2 separate regions of the Homo sapiens genome follow, and region 1 is linked to region 2. Evidence: fine-mapped expression QTL. Tissue or cell type: aorta. Region 2 holds a variant in brackets; the other region holds the start of a gene. All regions are shown on one strand. Distances are from middle to middle. Region 1 holds the start of ADHFE1 (alcohol dehydrogenase iron containing 1). Region 2 overlaps LOC102724687 (a long non-coding RNA gene).

Evidence for each region.
Region 1: it holds the start of ADHFE1, and the variant in region 2 is fine-mapped to the expression of ADHFE1 in aorta (GTEx, PIP above 0.99).

The regions. Positions count from the first base shown.
Region 1 is chr8:66,428,540-66,436,539 of GRCh38, forward strand. ADHFE1 (alcohol dehydrogenase iron containing 1) reads left to right here and starts at 3,965. Exons shown (of 14, transcript NM_144650.3): 1 at 3,965-4,036. The coding sequence starts at 3,978. RRS1 (regulator of ribosome synthesis 1) reads left to right here and starts at 475. Exons shown (of 1, transcript NM_015169.4): 1 at 475-2,194. The coding sequence starts at 593. The coding sequence ends at 1,690. It overlaps RRS1-DT (RRS1 divergent transcript), which reads right to left and starts at 438. Exons shown (of 3, transcript NR_040434.1): 1 at 403-438. LOC102724687 (a long non-coding RNA gene) reads right to left here and starts at 3,827. Exons shown (of 5, transcript XR_929013.3): 1 at 3,745-3,827. RefSeq lists silencers at 124-213, 3,799-4,218 and enhancers at 354-723, 1,993-2,042.
Region 2 is chr8:66,349,373-66,366,304 of GRCh38, forward strand. All of the region lies in intron 1 of LOC102724687 (a long non-coding RNA gene), which reads right to left. Among named protein-coding and RNA genes, the nearest start is that of RRS1-DT, 71 kb to the right of the region's middle. The variant T/G (reference allele first, on the strand shown) is at 12,900.

The DNA.
Region 1 (8,000 bases), 75 kb after region 2:
GGCAGTCCCAGGAATTTGTACCCGCCCCGGTCCCGGACCGCGCCCCTGGACAAACCCTCCGGCCCGCCCCTCCGGATTGAGCCCCAAGACTGTCCCCGGACCACCATCCTAAGACCACTCCCTGAACTGCCCCCCCCAAGACCGCCCCCTAGATCGCCCCCCGGGACCGCCCTCTCTAGACCGCCTGCGAGACTGTCCCCGGACCGCCCCCTGGACCACCCCCTAGGCGGCCCCCCGAGCTGTCCCTGGACCGCCCTCTAGACCGCCTCCCGCCCCCTGCATCCTGGGAATCGTAGTCCCAATCCTGCTCTGGAACTAGCAGTGCGGCCTGCTCGGGCCAGCTCCGCCTCTATCTGGCGCCAGCCTAAAGGTCCCGCTTCTAATCCCATCATCTCTCCATACCGCCCTCTGCCGGCCTTTCCTCTGGTCGCCCGGATTGCGAGCCGCTTCCGGACGCTCCGGAAGCGAACCTTTCTTTTCCGGATTGGGCATCCCGGCATCTGCACGTGGTTATGCTGCCGGAGTTTGGGCCGCCACTGTAGGAAAAGTAACTTCAGCTGCAGCCCCAAAGCGAGTGAGCCGAGCCGGAGCCATGGAGGGCCAGAGCGTGGAGGAGCTGCTCGCAAAGGCAGAGCAGGACGAGGCAGAGAAGTTGCAACGCATCACGGTGCACAAGGAGCTGGAGCTGCAGTTTGACCTGGGCAACCTGCTGGCGTCGGACCGGAACCCCCCGACCGGGCTGCGGTGCGCCGGACCCACGCCGGAGGCCGAGCTACAGGCCCTGGCGCGGGACAACACGCAACTGCTCATCAACCAGCTGTGGCAGCTGCCCACGGAGCGCGTGGAAGAGGCGATAGTGGCGCGGCTGCCGGAGCCCACCACACGCCTGCCGCGAGAGAAGCCTCTGCCCCGACCGCGGCCACTTACACGCTGGCAGCAGTTCGCGCGCCTCAAGGGCATCCGTCCCAAGAAGAAGACCAACCTGGTGTGGGACGAGGTGAGTGGCCAGTGGCGGCGGCGCTGGGGCTACCAGCGCGCCCGGGACGACACCAAAGAATGGCTGATTGAGGTGCCCGGCAATGCCGACCCCTTGGAGGACCAGTTCGCCAAGCGGATTCAGGCCAAGAAGGAAAGGGTGGCCAAGAACGAGCTGAACCGGCTGCGTAACCTGGCCCGCGCGCACAAGATGCAGCTGCCCAGCGCGGCCGGCTTGCACCCTACCGGACACCAGAGTAAGGAGGAGCTGGGCCGCGCCATGCAAGTGGCCAAGGTCTCCACCGCCTCTGTGGGGCGCTTTCAGGAGCGCCTCCCCAAGGAGAAGGTGCCCCGGGGCTCCGGCAAGAAAAGGAAGTTTCAACCCCTTTTCGGGGACTTTGCAGCCGAGAAAAAGAACCAGTTGGAGCTGCTTCGTGTCATGAACAGCAAGAAGCCTCAGCTGGATGTGACTAGGGCCACCAATAAGCAGATGAGGGAGGAGGACCAGGAGGAGGCCGCCAAGAGGAGGAAAATGAGCCAGAAGGGCAAGAGAAAGGGAGGCCGGCAGGGGCCTGGGGGCAAGAGGAAAGGGGGCCCGCCCAGCCAGGGAGGGAAGAGGAAAGGGGGCTTGGGAGGCAAGATGAATTCTGGGCCGCCTGGCTTGGGTGGCAAGAGAAAAGGAGGACAGCGCCCAGGAGGAAAGAGGAGGAAGTAATAGTTTCTAACTGTCGGACCCGTCTGTAAACCAAGGACTATGAATACTAAATGTTAAGTTCTAGGCAATTATACGGGGACTCAGAAGGACCTGGCCGCTGCCTTCATTGAGTTTAAAGGGACAGGATTGCCCTTCCGTCAAGAAAGTATGTAAGTGTTGGACTGCACAAATTAATGTTTTTCCCACAACCGAGACTTTGGAGATTAAGAACTTATTTGAGGATTTAAGAATTAGGGAAATAATTTGGTGGAAACCGGGAATGAGTTCTATTCTTAAACAGCCTTTTTTTTTCTTTTTAATGTTGGATATACGGCGAGGTAGAGTTGGCCATATTTCAGAGACTTAGATTGACGTATATGTTTCTGCATTATTTTTACAACAAGTTTGTGTATCAGAGCGGGAGTGCGGGGGAGGGAAAGAAAACAAACAGTTTCAGAATTGAATAGGCAAGTGACTGTTTTAAAGATTAAGTAATAAAGATGTCTTATCTAGTGTGACTTTTAACTTTCTGACTACTGGGTAGAAATTGTACTTGAAGCCGGTTACCTGGATACCTGGTACAGATTATTTTTGTTTACTTTCTGAAAAACACAAAGCAGGCCGTGCGCAGTGGCTCACTCCTGTAGAGTCCCAGTACTTTGGGAGGCCGGGGCGGGCGGATCACCTGAGGTCAGGAGTTCGCGACCAGCCTGGCCAACACAGTGAAACCCCATCTCTACTAAAAATAAAAAAATTAGCCAGACACGGTGGCTGGTACCTGTAGTCCCAGCTACTTGGGAGGCTGAGGCAGGAGTATCGTTTGAACCTGGGAGGCGGAGGTTGCAGTGAGCCCAGATCACGCCACTGCACTCCACTCCAGCCTGGGCAACAGAGGAAGGGGCCATCTCAAAAAAAAAAAGCAGTTCAATTATAATGGTTTCAGTGATACCACTTCTAAACTTATACTTCTTTTGGTATCAAATATAATATTCAAAGTAGTAAAACTGATGTCTGTTTTTTAAAAAGATTTTATGCCTTTCAACACTGAACACATGGATTTCCTGTAAATGATCAATTTGGGCTTCATTGACTAATGGTAATAATCCTCATTAATCCAGAAAACACTTAAATCTTTCTCTACGTTTATATCCCCAGTTGTTTGTGTGTGTGTGTTTGTTTTTAAGCTTGACGTCAGGTATAGTTTTGTTTGGGGGAAGAAAGAAACAGACCCATAAGATCCTTAATTAGGACATTATTATCTTTTTTTAAGTTCCGGAGTAGATGTGCAGGATGTGCATGTTTGTTACATAGGTAAACGTGTGCTGTGGTGGCTTGCTGCACCTATCAACCCATCACCTAAGTATTAAGTCCCTCTGCCCCCTTCTATCCCCTGCCCCCAGGCCCCAATGTGTGTTGTTCCCCTCCCTGTGTACATGTGTTCTCATAGAACATTATTTTTTGATTCATTTGTCAAGTTGGCCTGAGCTGGTTTGATTAGGAGGTGAAATGTTTATATAGCTGTCCTTGGTCTTCCTGTCCATCAATCTTTTCCAGTTTGATCGCAGTAAATTCATTTCTGTAAAACTTAATATCTCCCATAAAGGATTCAGATTTCATAATAACAGATTACTAAAAATGCAAATGTTTAGTTGTTACTGTCTTTGGATACTTTCTGATAAAGTTGAGCTTTATCGTTAATCAGCTTTTCCACTGGGACATGGCAGATATGGCACAGCCAAGCCCTCCCGGAGCATAGTCTAATCATGGCAAGTTTTAACTATTGATGTAAGAGTTTTAACTATTGATTTTGCTTTCATCAAAAGCAAAGCCATTCACACAGTATTTAACAAAAACCCTCGGGCTCTGCTAGGTTCTTGTTTACTGTTAAAACAGTTTAAAGGCAGGGTCTTGATCACTTAAAATACTCTTAGAAGGGAAAGTAACATTTTAAAGGATTAACAGTGGAAAAAGAATATCCCTGTTCCTCTTCCTTCCCCCAAGTCCTCAACATGTGAAAAATAGAGTTGATAAGTAAGGAGATTTAAGGCAGAACCCGAGGCCTACGGAGCAGTTACCTTCTACGGCAATTTCAAGGGTGGATGGTGCGAGCGCCGCTGGGGCAGCTGGCGTTCTGGTTCTTACTCCGTGGGAAAATGGCCCTGAGCCCGACTGGCTTGAGGCTTAGACAGGTGACCCCGCGAAGCGGGTGGGCAGGCGCGGCCGAGGGGCGGGAGGCGGGCAGCCTCCGTGATTGGCCGGCGGAGGGGGCGGTGTAGCGACCCGAGGAGGGAAGAGGACTCCAAGCGCCATGGCCGCTGCCGCCCGAGCCCGGGTCGCGTACTTGCTGAGGCAACTGCAACGCGCAGCGTGAGTGCGGGGCCGGCGGGCGGGCAGGGGACCGCAGGGTGCCCACGCAGCCCCCTGGGTGTGACCCGCTCAGATCCTGCGCAGTCTTCTCCGCTTACTTTCAAGAATTCGGAGAATTTGGATACCGCCCTGGGCTCCCACCGCGCGCCAGGCGGAACAGCGAGGTCACAGAGTGCGCGATGCAGCCTCTCAGGGCGCAGTGAGGCAGCCTTTACTCTGCTTGTCTACCGTTAAAGAAACTGAGGCCCAGAGAGGACCTGGTCCCACATCGTAGCAGGCAGTGGAGAGCTTGGCACGGTGGCCAAGACAAATTCATGTATGCAATTGACACATATTTATTGGGCATATATTATGTGCCAAAAACTATTCTAGGTTCTGGGGATACAAAGATGAAAGGCTCTGGAGCAGTTTGAGGTCTAGTGGGGAATGGGATGAGGGGACGAGGCTAAAACCGGCTATAGCAGACTGGGTGTAGAAGGGAAGGATGGATGTGAGAAGTCGCAGAGTCACACTTCCTGGCATGTACAGGGAGTCAGGGTATTCAATGTCATGACACGCCTGCCTCCCAGCAGAAATGTGAGGTACATCCTGGTCACCTGATAAATACTTGCTGACTGTGCAAGTGCACAAGTCTGCCTGGGAAACATGGAAAAGTTTGAGCTCACAGGTGCAGATCAGTAGGAGGAAAGGCGAGGGACTGGCGAGGAACGTCAGGCAGAGAGAAGAGCAACACCAGCGATGGAGATGCAGTCCCAGGACACAAAAGACAAGTAGACCTACCTTTATAAGAGGAGGTAAAGATGGAGAAGACGGCTGATAAAAGACCATGAATAAGAATATAGCTAATACGATGAGCCCGGCAGTGTCTTACACACTTTGAATGGACTATCAGTATAATAGTAACTCTAATCCTTTCACTGACCCTATGACACACGGTATTGTCATCCTCATAGATACGGAAATAAAGGCATGGAGAAGAATTTGTCCAGTGTCACACAGCTAAGCAAATGGCACAGTCATAATTTGAACCCAGATACTCTGGCTTCACAGTCCTTGTTCTTAGGCCTGTAGTAAGGAATTTGAATTGTGTGCTGTAGATAATGGAAAGCCATTGAATAATATTTGTCACCATTAAACACTGATACCTTAAAATGTCCCATGACAAAAGAATTACATGGCCAAATAAGTTTGAGAAGCTCCTTACTGCTGTATTGCCCTCTTGGAGAATCAAAATATACATTAGACATGCAGGGCTCCAAGAAGCTACAAAAAATACTAAAGCTGTGTTCAAATTTTTGGTTGTAAACCTGTGTCATCATAGAACTCTTTGTCACACAACACCATTTATATCCCATGGAATCAGTGTCACACACAGAATATGTTTTTGGAATGGTTGCATGAAAAGGGAGTATGGCATAATCAGAACTGTGTTAGCACATTCTGGTGGAAATGTGGAGTGAAGAGGAAGGACTAGAGGTCATTGTCCTGCTCCAGCCTGAAGATAATGGCTTCATGCACGGAGAGGCAGTTCCTTGGGTAGATAGAAATGCTGAGAGGTTGGTTAGAATCCACAGGATTTTGTATCTGAATAGTGAAGAGTTGAGATTTCTGGCTTGGGCATCAAGTAAACAGTGGGCTCATTTACCAAGGCAGGGATTGTAGGAGAGTTAGTGTTAGGAGGAAAATGGCAACTTCAGTCTAGGGCATTTTGAGTTGAGCATGCTTCTGGTACATTCAGATGGAGACCCCAGTAGGTGATTGAATGTATTGTTCTGGGGCTCAAGAGTGAGTTGGGAACACATCCATCCATGCGTATGGAGGACAGTTGAAGCCCTAACAAAACTCTAACCTAGAAGGAAACAGCTGAGGGTGAATTCCTGGGGAGCAGCACTGCCACAGCAGGAGTAGCAAGATGGTGCTTTCTTCTGCACATGCTTATTATTCTAATAGGGTAAACATTTTAAAAGTGGGAGATTTCCAATGAAAATCTTGGAAAATTGGAAAATGGCATCATTGGGCACATGTTTCATCTGGGCAAAGTGGGCTAGGGCACGGGGTGATGTGTGGCCATTTCTATTGGACAGAGCATGCACTCTGGGCTTCTGCCCAACACATTCCATAGAGCAACTGCGCTGACAACTGAATGGAGGGGAAAGAATCAGCACTGAAGGAGACAGAGGCAAGGCGTGCACTGGCCAGAGAGGTTGTGGGAAGGCCCTGGAGGGCAAGAGTCACATTCCGTCTCCAGATGTGCAGCCCTGCACAGGGTGGTGGGTGCCCATAGTCCCAGCTACTCAGGAGGCTGAGGCAGGAGAATCACTTGAATCTGGGAGGCATAGTTTGCAGTGAGCAGAGATCAGGCCACTTCACTCCAGCCTGGGCTACAGAGCAAGACTGTGTCTCAAAAAAAAAAAAAAGATGTGCAATGCAGCCCTGCTTTGACTGTGTTATCTCTGGGGTACAGCAGGGAACAAAACAACCTAACCACACCATGCATGGGGCACAGGGGATAGATGACAAACTAGTTAGTAAAATTGAGAGTACATTAGCTGTTGAAAGTTATTACAGAGAACATAAAGGAGGCTGGGATGTTGAAGGAAGGGATGCAATTTTTGAGGTGTTCAGAGCAGCCCTCACTATGTTAGTTTCCTACAGCTGTTGTAACAAACTACCATGAACCTGGTGGCTTAACACACATTTGTCTTAACAGTTCCAGAGGTCAAAAGTCTGAAATGAGTTTTACTAGGCTGAAGCCAAGGTGTGAGCAGGGCCACACTCCCTCTTGAGTAAGGCTCAGAGGTGCTGCAGAATCCACTTACTTGCTTTTTTCCAGCTTCTAGAGCTCTACCTTCGGTTCCTTAGCTTGTGGCCCCTTCCTCCATCTTCACAGCTGGCACTCATCTTGCTTCAGTGCTCACATTTCTGTCTTTTGGGTCAAATCTCCCTCTGCCTCCCTTTTATAAGGCTATGAGTGATTGCATTTAGGGCCCACACAGATCATCCAGAATAATCTCCTCATTTCAAGATTTTTTTTTTTTTTTTTTTTTTTTTTTTTGAGACAGAGTCTTGCTGTCACTTAGGCTGGAGTGCAGTGATGTGATCACGGCTCACTGCAATCTCGAATTTCTGGCCTCCTCAAAGATCCTCCCACCTTAGCGTCCCAAGTAGCTGGGACTACAGTGCACAACATCATGCGCAGCTGATTTTATTTTTTGTAGAGATGGAGTCTCACTATGTTGCCCCAGCTGTTCTTGAACTCCTGGCCCCAAGCAGTCTTCCCATCTTGGCCTCCCAAAGTGCTAGGATTATAGGTATGCGCCACAACACCTAGCAAGATTCTTTTTTTTTTTTTTTTTTTGAGATGGAGTCTCGCTCTGTCGCCCAGGCTGGAGTACAGTGGTGTGATCTCGGCTCACTGCAACCTCCACCTCCTGGGTTCGAGCGATTCTTCTGCCTCAGCCTGCTGAGTAGCTGGGATTACAGGCACACACCACCACACCTGGCTAATTTTTGTATTTTTAGTAGAGATGGGGTTTTGCCATGTTAGCCAGGCTGGTCTTGAACTCCTGACCTCAGGTGATCCACCAGCCTCAGCCTCCCCAAAGTGCTGGGATTACAGGTGTGAACCACTGTGCCCAGCCAGGATTCTTAATCATATCTGCAAAGTTCCTCTTACTATGTAGGGTAACATTCACAGATTCCCAGGATTAGAACCTTATCTTCAGGAGCGATTACTCAACTCAGTGATTACTCACTGAGAAGGTAATGGTTGCGGAAAGACCAGTGGATGCAGAGAGCAAACCCTGTGGCCTTCAGGGAAGGTATGCAGAGGTGAAGCATACCTGGGTATGGAACAGAGTGAATAAGGGGGAGATGGGAGTGTGGGGCCAAGGGTGACCCCAAGATTCTCCGGCACGAACAACTGGAAGGATGAAATTGCCATTAGATGGGGATGGGGAAGGCT
Region 2 (16,932 bases):
AACATATGGTTCCCGTCAAGCCTATACCTTGAGTCTACACCTTCAGCTTGTTGGTGTTTATTTCCAAAGCCTTCATTACCTCAACAACACTAAAGCTCGCAACCTTCTGTCTGCTCATTACTCTTGGCAGGGCCTGCAAACTCTCAGATTCCCTCTTCAGTTGCCTCTTGCAGATCTTCAATCAATTACAGCCCCAAAATTGCAAACTGCAGCACTCCAAGGTGGAGTCTTATGTGTGCCCCTGAGCCTCTCACCTGTGCATTTGCCTAACAGGGCCAGGTAGGGTCAGACAGCCACAACTGTGAGCATTTCACGGCACCTGGCAAAGGCTGCTGGCACCCTGCTAGGGCTGTTCTTCACACTGCCCATGTCTATTCTCACCACCTTCTTTTGTTCAAGTTGTTCTGTTACACTGGATACCCTCCATCCTTTTCTCAATTTCCAAATCCTATCTTTCAATACTCAACCAAGTTAATATACTTCAATCTTTAATAAATCCAAAACGCTACCTGTCCATCTGAGTTTCCGCACGGTAGCCAAGTTTACTCTCACTTGTGGACAAGGTAGCAGTGGTCACTCCCCACTTAGTGACTATGATTGGATCACCCAAATCTAACTGTTGACCACCAGCTAAAGAGCCCTTGAACTTTCATCTAGAGGGGAGCAATACAATGATGGTAGGCAAGGCAAGATTATCATTGTACAGCAACTTTGCATGGAAGTTAGGGCCAGGTGTATGAATAGGTTTCCTCTTGGAGGCTGACATGGTATCAGTAGTCATGACTCGAAGGGGAGGAGGATTTTGAGACTCCTATCAGGACTTGGGAAGGAGTGACATAACTAATTTGTGATATTTGCCATGGATACAGGGATGGGGGAAAGTGCCAAACACTATGTATTTGGATCCCTGGCTCAGGTCAGTAGGATACCAACAGTTCACTACAGCAGATAACAAATAGAAATTTAAAAAGCCAAGAGCATTAAAGCATCTACCAGATGATGCACTTTGAATTCAAGATTTCTGGAGGAATGCAAGCGTAATTAGGGAAAAATAGAATCTTAAATAATGGTCAGCCACCAATACCATAGCAATTCAAATGATGTAACTGTCGCCTCATTGCACCATTGTATTCATTCAACCACTCATTTATCCATTTAACAAATGTTTTCTGAGAACCCACTAAATGTACCACATACTAATATAAACAAAATATAGCAGGTGTTACAGCACAGTGTTTAAGCATGGGCTCTGAATATCTTAGCTTCAAATCCTGACTCTACCACTTACAAACAAGTTTTCTAAAGTTACTTATAACAGTGTCTAGCACATCAAAAGCCCTCAACAAATGTCAGTGGTTACTATTATGATCATCATCATGATCATCTGGTAGTGGTAATAAAAGGAAGCTAGTGATCTAAGAAAGGAATACAGTATAGGAGTCTTCATGGGAGAACTAGTTACATATTCTGATAGAACAATGCACTCTTTTTGTAACATTTATTTTACTCTAATTATTCAGTATTTGTCTTCCCTGCTAGCTTGTAAATTCACAGGGGCAAACAACATGTCTGCTTTATTCTCTACTATATCCCTGACCCATAATAGATGCTCAGCAAATATTTCTTGACTGATTATGCTAGTGAATTAGTATACAAGAACCATAAAGAGGCTGACACCACTCACCGGTCAGCTCACTCTCCCCTCTCCGAGGGTGTTACCCCGCTTAATAAACCTTTTGCTGTTTTGCTTTAAAAAAAAAAAAATACGTAAAGAGAAGTGCAGCACAAACAGAGTGAGACCACTCAGGGGCCGTAATCATTCAGCCCTTGCATGAGGGCAGGTTTGGGATTGTCAGAGTCATTCGAACCAGAGCGACTCCATTTTGAGTGAGGGCTAGGAAAATGAGGCTGGGACTTGCTGGGCTGCATTCCCAGAAAATTACGCATTCCTAGCCCCTAGATGTTTATGGTTAAGGGAACAAATTAATAATGTTTACTATAACAAACTCAGATTTGGGAGCGTCCAGATATCCCAATATCTGGAGAACAAAGGCATTCCTAATTTTGCTTTAAAGATAATATTATCAATTCTTGCAAAATATAGTAATGAAGAAAATTAATCCTTTATCACAAACCTTTGTAGCAGAACACCTCCCCCCATATATACAAGCATTGTACCTAGGGTGGATGCGTTCCTCCTCGTACTTTCAGGAACGTCCTACTCTGTCTATAGAGCACCTGTCCTTTCACCACTTTACTTTCTTAATAAACTTGCTTTTACTTCGCACTGAGGACTCGCCCTGAATTCTTTCTTGCACGAGATCCAAGAACCCTCTCTTGGGGTCTGGATCGGGACCCCTTTCCGGTAACAGGATGAAGAGTTTTAGTCACCAGAAGAAACACAGCCCACTTCATAATTTTTGAATTAAAGCAATCCTATTAAATGAACATAAGTTCAATAGGTATTTTAATGCCACACATAATCAATTATGCAAAAAGTTTTTCTGATTTTCCATGGATTTCAGTGAAGAGGGAATTCTAATATAGATGTTATAATAAAACACAATGAGCCCCTTCTCTTCTCTTCTATAAAGGCAAAGATATATTTTCCAATTCATTTTTGCTGCAACTTCCCAAAGCAGACTCAAAGCTTGCCAAACTCAAATATTGTTAGAACTCGAACAATTCCAAAGCTGACAGGAAGGCCAGTTTTTAATCACCTCTGGGATGTTCACTTTCAGTAAAGATATTTAGGGCTAAGAAAGAAAAAGCCCAAATATAGCTCTAAGATGTTGAGCTATCTACTTTTATAACTCCCTTGGTGATAGAATTGTTGTTGCTTTTCAAATCCTGCTGCAGTTTGACCCTTCCCAGTAGGAACTTGGTGATAAATAATGCCTTTAATTGCTTTTCCTCCTGCCCTCGCAGCTGGTAGGAGAAGTGATGTGTGTATCACAAAGAAATGCTGAACCAAATTTTAAGGACAGAAAGGTAGGGATGTAGCTGTTGGGCTCTGCCTTCTTCCTGCATGGTGGGGGAGCCTCCAAACCTCTCTTTGTTAAGGACAGCAGCTCAGCCCAGGTGCCACTGAGTGGTCTTGTTCCCCATTGTCATTGCCGCTCCAGCTTATGACTGACAGAGAAGACTTCCTAGAGTCTCAGCCTTTGGTCCAGCTTTCCCCATCTGCCTCAAAGCCCTGGGGAACGTGAGTTAATGAACCAATGAACTGTGTTGCCTTCCTGGTATCCTTTGCTGATAGTTATTTGATGCAAGAGCTCAGGGACTCAAAATGCCTCTTTTAGGTCACAGGGAACCACGGCTTTTCTGATGCAGTCAATCAACTTGGAGTGTGCAGCAGGAGCTAAGGCTGTATGAATGGTGTCCTGCCTCAGTGCCTCTGCTGGAATCTGATCAAATAGGGAAGCATCGAGGAGGGGAGAGGGTGATGATGGGCAGTGAATGTGGCTTTGACTTACAAACTGACCTTCATATCATTTGAGATGATACAGTAATTTTCCCAAAAGACAAATTGAATTTATATCATTAGTTTCCCCCAACTAGTGAAATCCTTTCTGATAACTTTATTCTTTTGCTTTTAATACTGACTCCTTAGGAGAACTGGTATGGATGGGGAGGGAATAGAGGGATTGGGACAGCCTCAAGCAGTAGATTGCCTTGAACTTTAAAAAGACAAGGATCTAAAACTCCAAGGGACTCTTGCCAAGAGAACACATACAAGATGTGCAGAGACTTAATGATTGTAAAATGTATCCATGGGGTAATAGATGTCATTTGTCCCCTCTGACTCTTGCTTCCTCTTTGATGTAGTTTACTTAAGATTTCATAGAGGAAACTGAGAAACAAGGTTACATTATACACCCTACAGGATTCAACTTAGAATTACTCAACTTGGGGATAAAGAAAATGTGGTATATATACAAAATGGAATACTAGTCAGCCTTAAAAAAAAACTAGAAAGAAAATTCTGTCATTTGCAACAACATGGATGGACCTGTAAAGCATTATACTAAGTGAAACTAGCCAGATACGTGATCTCACTTATCTATTAATCTAAAAAAGTGGAACTCATAGAAGTAGAGAGTAGAATGGTGATTACCAGAGGCTTGGGGCTGAGGGGAGTGGAGGGATGGAATCGGGAGTTGTTGGGCAGAAGATATGAAGTTTCAAATAGACAGGAGGAATAAGTTTTGAGATATATTGCACAGCAGATAACTATAGGCATTAATATGTTTCAAAATAACTAAGAGAGTAAATGTCAAATGTCCCACAACAAAAAATAAGTGATGAGATAGATATGTTAATTAGCTTGATTTAATCATTTCATATTGTTTACATATATCGAAACATCACATTGTACCCCCATAAATGTACACAATTATGATTTGTCAATTTAAAATAATATTAATTTTAAAAATAGAAACTTTTTAAAATTATCTATTTGATATTTCAGTTTCCCCCAAGTCCCTCTTCCAGCTAACTACCCCTGGGGCATTTCTCTCTGATTCTGGCATCTTCCTCCACAATTATGAAAACAATTTCACTGCACTCCAGTTTCTACCATCAAGTTCGCATACCCCAATTCATCTCAGGTTCTGCTGAACCAATGGTCTTTCAGTTAACAGAACCTCCCCCCATGAAAAGTAATTGCTTACCATTTTTCATTACTTGCACAAGTGCTTCAGGTTAAAATAAAAGAAGCCATCTGGATATCACCCAGTTTCTGCTGTGTGTGGCTGGTGAGGAAAGTTGAGAGGCAGAATGGCGAGATGGAGAGAAGGTAAAGCCCTTCCCCCAAAAATGGGCCCAATAAACTAAATATTGTACTTATGTCTGAGTTGTCTCGGGAATTTTAGTTTTAAGTTTTCTAAAGACCAATCCCCTTAGGAAAATTGAGAAAACAAAATATACTATTTCTATGACAATAGAGAGATGTCTAAATCTATATGTTGACTTCACTAAGTGCATCTTTGTGTAATGGTCCAAAGTCTCATTTTACTAGATGAACAGTAATTTAAATGTTTAAAAATGAAAGTATCCTGTTTCAAAATGTTGAATTTGCATGAGCTACTGGCTCCCTACCACAAAATCAACTCTGAAGGAAAAAAAAAAAGGAAACTTAGATTTACAAAAGAGTGACTATTCTTTTCTTGCATACTTAGAATATTAACAAAAATTGAACATGTGCCAGGCTATTAAAATAACAATACATTTCAAATAATTAATACCTTACAGACTTGGCTCTCTGACCATAATCCAATAAACTGTTAAATCGTAACAGAAGAATAACTTTTTCAAAAAAACTCACATGATTAAAAAGTAATGTATTACCAAATAAGTCTTTGGTTAAAGCAGAAATAAATATTTAGAACTGAATGATAACGATACTACAAGACAAAATTTTGAGGTATGCAGCTAAAGCTGTACTTAGGGAAAAGTTATAGCTTTAAATATATTTACCGGGTAACAAATATCTAAAATAGGTGAGTTAAGGATTTAACTCAAAAAGTTGCGAGTTACAGAGCAAACCCAAAGTGACAAGAAAGAAGCAAATAATAAAGATAAAAGATTTTTAAAAACTAAAAATAGAAGACAAATAAAAAGTTAATTTTTGTAAGATTAATAAAATAGGGTCTTGGCAATACTAATCAAGAGAAAATGAAAATAAACAAAATGCATAAAGAAAGAAAATATCTAGACCCAACAGAGGATTACTTAAGCAGCTGTACATTGACAAAGTTGAAAATCTAGATAAAATGGAAAAATACCTAGAAAAATGTAAATGGCCAAACTTGGTACAGGAAGAAATAATGAACTTGAATATATGAATAAGTATAAAAGAAATTGAATCCGAAAAAATCCCAGTCCCAGATAGCTTTACAGCTAAGTTCCAACAAACTGTCTTATAAAAACTGTCTTGTAGGCTGGACACAGTGGCTCACGCCTGTAATCCCAGGACTTTGGGAGGCCAAGGTGGGCAGATTACTTGAGGTCAGGAGTTCGAGATCAGCCTGGCCAACATGATGAAACCCCGTCTCTACTAAAAAATACAAAAAATTAGCCAGGTGTGATGGTGAGCACCTGTAATCCCAGCTACTTGGGAGGCTGAGGCAGGAGAATCGCTTGAATGCAGGAGGCCAAAGTAGCAGTGAGCCAAGATCGTGCCATTGCACTCCAGCCTGGGCAATGGAGTGAGACTCTGACTCAAAAAAAACAAAAAACAGACAAACAAAAAACCTATCTTCTACAAGTTGGTACAGAAAATAGAAAATGAGTAAAAGATGCCCAGCTCATTTTATAGTGCTAGTGTAATCTTTTACTCAAAACTAGATAAGAAAAATGGAAAAAAGAGAAATTATAGGCCAGTTTCATTTATAAACATAGTTGCAAATATCCTAAATATTAGCTAACTGAACTCGACAGTGTATTTTTTAAATGCATAATAATCAAGTAAATCATATCTTAGTTGATGGACTTCATGATATGCTACCTGAAAATACGACAGCTTGGCATACTGAATATTTCAGCTGAAAAAGTTTGAGAGAAAGCATATGCAGGGCCCGGCACGGTGGCTCAAGCCTGTAATCCCAGCACTTTGGGAGGCCGAGACAGGCGGATCATGAGGTCAGGAGATGGAGACCATCCTGGCTAACACGGTGAAACCCCCGTCTCCACTAAAAATACAAAAAAATAGCTGGGCGTGGTGGCAGACGCCTGTAGTCCCAGCTACTCGGGAGGCTGAGGCAGGAGAATGGCGTGAACCCAGGAGGCGGAGCTTGCAGTGAGCCGAGATCACGCCACTGCACTCCAGCCTGGGCGACAGAGCGAGACTCCATCTCAAAAAAAAAAGAAAGAAAGAAAGAAAGAAAGATAGCATATGCAGTAAGTTCTCTCTGACCTTCCCCTGACCTTCTTTCCTGAAGCAGGTCATAAGACCCTCATGTGAGAGGTGTCTTTTCTGTTCCTGGAGGAAAGGAACATCCTATCTCTGAAGACACAGAGTCACAGAGAAGAATCTGAACAGGCCTTACTAAGTTTCCCCCAGTTTATTACCATTAAATTAGATCATACTCTTTTAGCTCTATCCTATTTCTCCATGACTCTCCACTCTCATCAAATCTAGCATTAAAATGCATCGGTTCACCTGTTTCTGCATCCTCATTTCCTTTTGAAGTTTCCCGTGTCACATAAAACTTACACTAAATAAATTTGTAAGCTTTTCATGTATTAATCTGTCTTTTGTTATAGGGACCTCTGCCATAAACCTAGGATGAATAAAGAAAAAGACATTTTTCCTCCCCTATGCAGGGATGCAAAGGAATCTATCTGTGTAATTATTCATCACATTACAGATTAGGGAGGAAAAAGGCATATGATCAACTAAATCAACTTTTAAAGCATTTGAGAGTATGTATTCAAAAAACTTAAACTCAGAGTCTTGAAAATATATTTGTCCACCCATGTTCATAGCAGCATTGTTTACATTAACCAAGAGGTAGAAGTAACTCAAGTATCCATCAATGGTTGAATGGATAAACAAAATGTGGTATTTATTATACAATGGAATATTATTTGGCCTCAGAAAGGAAGGAAATTCGGACACATGCTACAACATGGATAAACTTTGAGGACATTCTGTTCAGTGAAATAAGCTAGTCACAAAAAGACAAACATTGTACGATTCCACTTATATAAGGTATCAAGACAAGTTAACTTTGTTGAGACAGGAAGTAGAATGGTGGTTGCCAGGGGCTGGAGGCAGTGTGGAATGAAGAGGTATTGTGTAAAGAGTAAAGACTTTCCCTTTTGCAAGATGAAAAAGTTCTATAGATTGGCTGCAAAACAATGTGAATATACTTAACACTACTCAAGTATATACTTAAAAATGGTTAAAATAGGAAATCTTGTGTTCAATGTATTTTACCACAATTAGCTAAATAAATACATACATGTATATGTATTTATACATGTATACAACATGTATATATTTCCTCTCCGCTAAAAAATAATAAGCTACAGAGATAGCATTGCAGGTTATTAGGGGAAATAATAGATTTTTTTGCATAGACTTTATTTTTTAGAGTTTTAGGTTCACAGCAAAATTGAGTAGGAAGTACAGAGATTTCCCATACACTACCTATCCTGGCACATGCACAACCTCTCCCCCATCAATATCCCACACTAGAGTGGTATATTTGTTATTATCAATGAACATACATTAACCTTATCACCCCAAATCCATTAGGGTTTTACATTAGGGTTCACTCTTGGTGTTGTACATTCTATGCATTTTCACGAATGTATAATGACATGTATTCACCATTATAGTGTCATACAAAGTAGTTTCACTGCCCTAAAAATCCTTGTCAGCATTTGTTGTTGTCAAGGCATAGATTTTTAGGACACAGAAATCACTAACTGTTAAAGAAAATATTGAAAAATTGTGCTTCAGGCCAGTCTCAGTGGCTCACACCTCTAATCCCAGTACTTTGGGAGGCCCAGGCAGGCGGATCACCTGAAGTCAGGAGTTTGAGACCAGCCTGCCTAACATGGTGAAACCCCATCTCTACTAAAAATACAAAAATTAGCCAGGCGTGGTAGCACCCACCTGTAATCCCAGCTACTCAAGAGGCTGAGGCAGGAGAATTGCTTGAATCCGGGAGGTGAAGGTTGCAGTGAGCTGAGATTGCGCCATTGCACTCCAGCCTGAGCAACAGAGCAAGACTCTGTCTCAAAAAAAAAAAAAAAGAAAGAAAGAAAAAGAAAAGTTGTGTTTCATAAAATTTAGAAATTCTGCTCATTAAAAGATATAAAAAATGAAAATGTGGCCGGGTGCAGTGGCTGACATCTGTAATCCCAGCACTTTGGGAGGCCAAGGCGGATGGATCACCTGAGGTCAGGAGTTCAAGACCAGCCTGGCCAACATGGTGAAACCGCATCTCTACTAAAAATACAAAAATTAGCTGGGCTTGGTGGTGGGCACCTGTAATCCCAGCTACTTGGGAGGCTGAGGCAGGAGAATTGCTTGAACCCAGAAGGCGGAGGTTGCAGTGAGCCAAGATCCTGCCACTGCACTCCAGCCTCGGTGAGACTGTCTCAAAAAAAAAGAAAAAAAAAGGAAACATCTATAACACATATATCCAACAAAGGACTAATGTCCAGAATATCTAAAGAACTCATGAGTTAATAACAAAACAACCAAAAACTACATAACAGCAAAAGATTTGAATTGACACTTCATGGAGCTATATATACAAATGGCCAATAAGACATGGAAATGTTCTCAATCTCTTTAATCATTATAACAATATAAATTGAAACCACAATGAGTTACCATTTCATGCACTAGGATGGCTAAAATTAAATGACAACAGCAAATGCTGACAGACACAGAACAATTGAAGTATCATATATTGCTAGTAGAATTGTAAAATGATGCATTTTGCTAAACTGTCAGTTTCTTATACAGTTAAATATACACCTACCCTATGACTCAGCAATTTCATTCTTAGGTTTTACCCAAGACAATTAAAACATATGTCCACCAAAAAACTACTACAAGAATATTTATTGCAATGTTATGCCCATCAACAGAAGAGTTCATAAGCAAGTTGTAGTTTAGTCACATAATAGAACGTTACTCAGCAGTGAAAAGGAATAAACTATTGATGCACACAGCAACAGAGTGAATCTCAAAAATATGTTGAGCAAAAGAAGCCAGACACACTGAAATACATACTGAACAATTCCATGTATGTGAAGTTCAAAGACAGGCAATTAATCTATGGTGATGGAATTACAATATTTTTGTGTATGGGGGTTAAGAGTTGACTGCCTGGTGCATGAAGGAACTTTCTGGAGCGATGGAAATGTTCTGTATCATTTTTCTTTCTTTTCTTTTCTTTTTTGGAGACATGGTTTCTCCGTGTTACCCAGGCTGGTCTCAAACTCCTGAGCTCAAGCGATCCTCCCACCTTGGCCTCCCCAATGTGCTGGGATTACAGGCATGAGCCACTGTGCCCAGCCCAGTGGTCTGTATCTTAATTGAGATGGTATTATATGAGCATATGCATTTGTCTAAACTCATTTAATTGTGCACTTAAGATCTGTACATATCACTGCTTGTAAAATCACCTCAATAAAAAATATTGGGGTGATATCATTAAGAGGAGGAAGAGATATTGTCGAGTAAAAGCTGTAAAAGTTCACTGTGGGGAAAAAAAACGCAGTGATCAAGAGAATCAAAGTAGGTACAAAAATCACACATCTCACTGATGAAAACAATGTTCATTGAGCTTGACTGAAATGAAGCTTTTCCATTTTATTTAGCTGCAGAAAATATTTTCTGAATCCTATAGGATGAATCTTGACCAAAATTGATTTTTTGAAACAAACTGGTCTTTAGTGATTTTATTTTCTTTTTTGTGTATGTATATGATGGTTAAATAACCAAAATGAATATAATAATCATTTCTAAATAATCAAAAATAAACCTGAAAATAACTTTATGTTAGTCTGGTTGTTGTTTATGAATAATTAACATGATTGTTTTAAATAAATTTTGACTTAAAATTCACCCAGCAGCCTTATTACAACCTCCTACAGGTATCCTGACATAGCTGCAGCATTGTCTTGGGAAAGGTACAATGTTCTGTTCATTTATTTTAAGACCATTTTTCATTCAGGTAATTACAGGAAAGATTCAGCAAGCATGAGACAAAGCACTATTAAAAAGCTGTGAATTCCTGGGTCTCTAAGCCTAAGTGTTGTTTCTATTTTACATTCTAATAACTTGTCTTTTTCTATTCCCTCTTTATTAAATTCTGTATTCACCTTTTTAGAACTCATCTGACATATATTACAATCAGATTTGCCAATGTGCTAAGTCAAACAGTACAAGGTTTGTCATCAAAGTCTCCCAATCCTGTCTTCAGTCATTGGTAAATCTAATACATTCTATTTGTTTGTTTGTTTGTTTGTTTGTTGTTTTCCTGAACCTGATAGTAACTGAACAAATTCCTTACTTTAGCTGAAATGGCCCATGCTTACTCTTGGACAAAAGGAGTAAAACATTATGTTCCAGCATAAGTAAAACCCTTAACTCATATCTCCTTTTGTAAAAAAAAAAAAAAAAAAAAAACTGTAAGGACTAATTTCACTTGCTGGTATTCAAAAATGAGTAGCATCAATTTTCCATATTCAATACAATTTGTGTCAAATTTTAAAAACCAAATATCTGTAACTCATTTCAAAACCCTCAAAGTTGGGGATTCTCTGCAAATCACTATTGTATTGGATAGGAAAAAACTTTACTTCCCAGTTTAGGTCAATTGAATGTGAGTTGCAGAAGGGCCAGGGCAGTATCTTCTCAGTTCATCATTGGTAGCATCATGCCTGGCACATAGAGATGTCTGTTAATACGTAATAAATGAACAAAGTAGCAGCCATTCTCAACCAAAGGGAACACCATGAGACATTGCAGTGTCATGATCTATTGAGAGATATGTTGAAAGTAATTAGACCTAATGATAAAGAAACCTTTTTGCCCTAATAACTGAATTGTTTTAAAACTTTGAATCTTGACAATTTTTAGATTAATGGAAGAGTTGCAAAGATAACACAGACAGTTCCTATGTACCCTTCATCCCATTTCCCCTAATGCTAACATGCTACATAACCATGGTGCATTTATAAAACTGATAAATTAACATTAACAATACTATAAACTATAGAATTATTCAGATTTTACTGGTTTTTCCACTGATGTCCTTTTCCTGTTCCAGGATTCGATTCAGGATACCATGTTGCATTAAGTCATCCTGTCTCCTTATAAACTCAACTCTGACAATTTGCCAGCCTTTCCTCATTTGCTTTTCATGATATTGGCTCCATTTGGATTTGTCTGGTGCTTTCTCATTATTAGACTGAGCTTATAGATTTGGAGGAATAATACCATATACCACAGAGGTGAGGTGCCCTTCTCATCACATCATATAAGGGATACATCATGTCAATACAACTTATTACGGGTGATGTTAACATTGATCGTTCAGTTAAGGTAGTATCTGCCGGTTTCTGTGCTGTAAAGGTATTTTTTCCTTTCCATACTCTAGTCCTTAGAAGCAAGTTTCTAAGTCAAACTCATAATAAAGGAGACAGAAATTAAACTTCACCTCCTGGTAGAAGAATTTGGGAGTGTATGTCAAAACCCACCATTAATAGTAATTAATAAATGTATTTGGGAAATTCCTTTCCAGCTATGCAAATACCCTGCTTCTCCTTAAAGTCTCACCTACTAAGAGTAGTATTCATCAACGGATTTTGCCTATAGTAACTATTGTGGTACCAAGAACACTTTTTCATTTATTTATTTTATATAAATGGTACAACAATTGAAAGTTACTTCTATAATATCACTGTCGCTCCAACAAATAGTGTCCGTTGCCTACCTGTTTTCTGACTGCAAACAGATCTTTAGCTTCAGAAGAGCTAATCCCCTCTGCCATTTCCTTTGCAATGTTTGGTTTAGGACTTGTCCTGTGACAGAATTCAGACTAATGAGACATGAGAGTAAGTCTTTTCAGGAGGTTCTAACAGATTCTTCTTCACTTTCAAAAAGAGTCACAAGGAAGGGATGTTCTGTCTTCTAAGCTTGAGGCTTTGTAAGTGAGGATTTAGTCTAGCACTGCGGCAGCCACCTTGAGGCCATGAGGGAACAAATCTGAAAATAAAAGCAAACACACTGCTGAAGATGGCAGAGTTGAAGGATGCAAACAACCCGGTCTTGATGCTGTGGATTTGCTAAATTAACCAACTCTGAATCACTCTAAATCCTGATTTCACTTTGTGACATAATCAAGCCCCTTATTATTTGACTGATT[T/G]TGAGTGTGGCTTGCAGCTGAAAGCTCCCTAATTGATGCACTCACTTCATTGTGAGAGCCTTTCTTGAGAAGTGGAGAAAGGGACAGATTTATAGCCCTTAGTCATGAATTGTACACAACCCTGGATAGGCACATTGGTCTTTGTTCTGGATACACACTTGACTGGGGCTTGTGTCACTATATCAGGGGAGGGAAAGATTGAGAAAAGTAGCTGTATGAAAACATACATGCTTCCAGTGTGAACTTCTAAGAGTTGGCTTCATAAAGATACGTTCAAAATAATTCTTTCTGGAATTTTTGGCAAGCAGGTAGTTTCATTATCCTCTGTTTCTCTTTCTTTTTGTTAAATTTTCTTTCAAAATATTTTTCAAAATTTTCAAAAATTAGTATATAAAGCTCAGAATAGAACTAGAATTATGCTAGGTAATTAAAGACACAAGATGTAATATGTGACCTTTTTTTTTTAATCTATGTGTTTAAAAATTCTTGTGAATCTGTTATCATAAGTTAATTGAAGTCCTTCATACTATCTTTTTTAATTTTTTTTTTTTTTTTTTTTTTTTGAGATGGAGTCTCACTCTGTTGCCAGGCTGGAGTACAGTGGTGCAATCTTGGCTCACTGCAACCTCCACCTCCAGAGTTCAAGTGATTCTCCAGCCTCAGCCTCCTGAGTAGCTGGGACTACAGGTGCGTGCCACCACGCCCAGCTAATTTTTGTATTTTCAGTAAAGACGGGGTTTCACCATGTTGGCCAGGATGGTCTCGATCTCTTGACCCTGTGACCCGCCCGACTCGGCCTCCCAAAGTGCTGGGATTACAGGTGTGAGCCATGACACCCAGCCTTTAATTTTTTTTTTAAACCCAACACTATTAGCGGTGTTAGGAACCTCATACTATGTTAACTCACTGGGTGATCTCATCTACTCCTTGTTTAAATAATTATAGGCACTACTTAATTCTCTTTTGAAAGAAGTCAAATTACAATTGCTACCCTCGTTTAAAGGGTTATCTTTAAAACCTTATTACATTATGTAAATGTACTCAATGCTCACCGCTAGTCAGTTCATACGACAGCTTTTCCATTCCTAATTTTTTAAGTGCAATGTATTATTTAATCGTCTATATCTCATCATCAAATGTATTTTTCCAAGCAGGGCTCATTAATATGCTGAGATTATACATATTAGAAATGTCTTTCTGTTATACTTATTTTGGGAGGATAACTTGACTAGGTATAAAATTCTTACCTTTGAATTCTTTATAAAAATAATTTCATTCTTTTCTCGCATTTAATGTTGCTGTGAAAAAATCTGAGGCCAGATTGACATTTTCTCCATTGTAGTTCTTTCTTAGTTTCACTGGCTATTGGAGACTTTTCTTGATCTTGAAATTTAACAACTTCATCAAGATATGCTGTCTTAATCATTACATATTCCTTTTTATGTCGATCAGATGCTTTCTAAATTTCAGGAAATGTTTCTTCTACTGTGTATTTTAATATTTTTCTTTCTTTACTTGTTTTATTTATTTACTGAAATAAATTATGCTATGCTTCTATTGAATCATTTTTCTGTCTTCCATAGCTATCATCATCTGTCTAATTAATGACATTTCTTTGGTGGTTTTTGTTTTATTTTGTTTTGTTAGATTTTCTTAGGACTGTTCCATAAATCCTTGACAATTTTTTTTTCCATCAGTATCCTATTTCTTGCTGCTTCCAAGGTAATTTTAATTTTTGCAGTGGATTCTTTAAAAAAATTCTTTGCAGAGTTCTGTCAGTTCATTTGTTATGTGTTTGAGTAATTATCACTTCCTTGAGCTCCTTTTTTTTTTTTTAACAGTCCATTTTCCCATTAATTTCTCTGAAAGCATGGAGAAGGTGTTTGCCTGAAATCTTCTCTTTACTGGGATAATTTAGCTGAAGTATAATCTGTATTGACCTTTTCTGTGTTTTATTACTTTCTTCTCTTTTATGGTGGCTGTGAATAGATCTTATGCTGAATCCTTTCTGATTATTATTCAATATTGAATCAGTATAATTCTCATCAGCAATGATCTTTAATAAAATAGTATAAGAATGAGTAATCTTGGGCAGTTGGCGAATTTAATTTTCGTACATTTTGTCTGAACACTTTCCAATCAGTTATCCTGGGAAGGAGATCCTTTCAAGTTTGAGGCTTGTTCCTTCAGTGCGGACACCCTGCTCTGGAGCAAGGTTGATGAAGCCTAGCTGCTCATCCGCCCAACGATCCGTGACTGGGCTACTTGGTGGACTATGGCCAGAGCCGTGAAGCTGACTGCTGCTCCCCCTGCCTCTCTCCACGTAGTTTCCCCAGGTTAGGAAACATAAAGAGCAATGTATTCACTTTCCAGAATTTTCCTCCGTTGGTTAGAGGTTTCACTCTGTTTAACAGAAATACTTCATAACCTGTTTGGCATTCTTTCCTAGTTTCATTATAGATGATATTTTCATAATATTTTCTATTCTTTATGATAGATTACTTCAAGAAGACAAGGGGAGTAAACATTACTCAATTCCACCATTTTTAACTGGGACTCCTCCCATCATTTGTTATGTGTCTGTTTCTCTCACTACAGTGGGTGCCCTTTGAGGGCAGGAACTATGTCTAAAATGTATATACCCCACGTCTGATATAGAAGAGGTACTCAGTAAATATTCATTGAAGGAATGAATTTCACTGAGACACTGAATGATATTGTTTTATGTACTAACAGCTGTCCTGCTTATCTAGAAGAGTATGTTATAGAAGAGCAAACACTGCAGGTAGTGGAAGATGAGGGGGTCAGCAGGTGTATCAGTTTTGTTTGGTGTACATCCAACAAAGGGAAGCCTAAGCCCTTTGTTCCTCTCTGTATTCAGCAATCCTCACTATTCACAGATTCCATATTTGCAAATTCGCCTACTCACTAAAATTACTTGTAACTCCGAAATAAATATTCCAAGCACTTTCATGGTCATTCATGAACATGTGCAGAGCAGCAAAACTTTGAGTCCCCTAACATATATGTTCCCAGTTGAGGCAAACAAAGCAATCTCTGCCTTCTTGTTTCAGCTGTCATACTACAAACAAGTGTCCTTTTAGTGCTCTATTTAGTGCCATAATTTTTAACCGTTAGGCTTTTCTTTTTTTATTGATTTAACCATTTAAAATGGCCTCCAAGAAAACTGCAGAAGTGCTGTGTAGTGTTCCTAAGTGCAAGGGGGTTGTGATGCACCCTACGGGGAAAATACATGTGTCAAAGAAGCGTTGTTCATGCATGAGACATAGTACTGTTGCCATGAGGGCAATATTAACGAGTCAACACTATACATTACAAAAGATGTCTTTAAACAGAAACACACATAAAACAAGGTTTTTTATAGATTGCTTAATGAAAATTGTGAACAGTGGCTCACAGGAACCTAACAGTATTTCCTGTAAGAGCAATAGTTCAGTATTTCCTAATTCAGTGTTTGCAGCAGCTTTATAGAATATAAGTACCACAGAGAGCAAGAATCAACCATCTTATATCATATATATGGGAAAACTCCAAAATTTATACCTTGAGTTTTAAAAATGCCCTGAAGAGCAGGCACACTTATGCAATTGCCTTTTGATATATTACTTAGATATGTAATAAGCGTCTCAAACTTAACAGGCTTGAAACAGAATTTTGATTTTTTTTTCCTTCCCACAAACCTCTTTTCTCCCAGTCTTCCCCAAATCTTTAAATGTCAATCCTTTCCACCTGGTTGCTCAAACCAAAACAATGAATCATCCTCAATTCTTCTCTTCCCCTCACCTTTCATATTCATTCCAACAGCAAATCCTGACAGGTTTACTTCTCTCCCAAGTCCATGTACTATCTCTGTCTCCATAACTACCATCTCAGTTCAAGGCACCATCATTCCTTCACCAGAATCCTGTGAGAACTGCCTACCTGTCTAACTGCTTCCACTCTAACTCTCTGTAATTCACTCTTCATGCAGGAGCAAAAGTGATGCTGTTAAAATGGGGATCAGACCATGTTA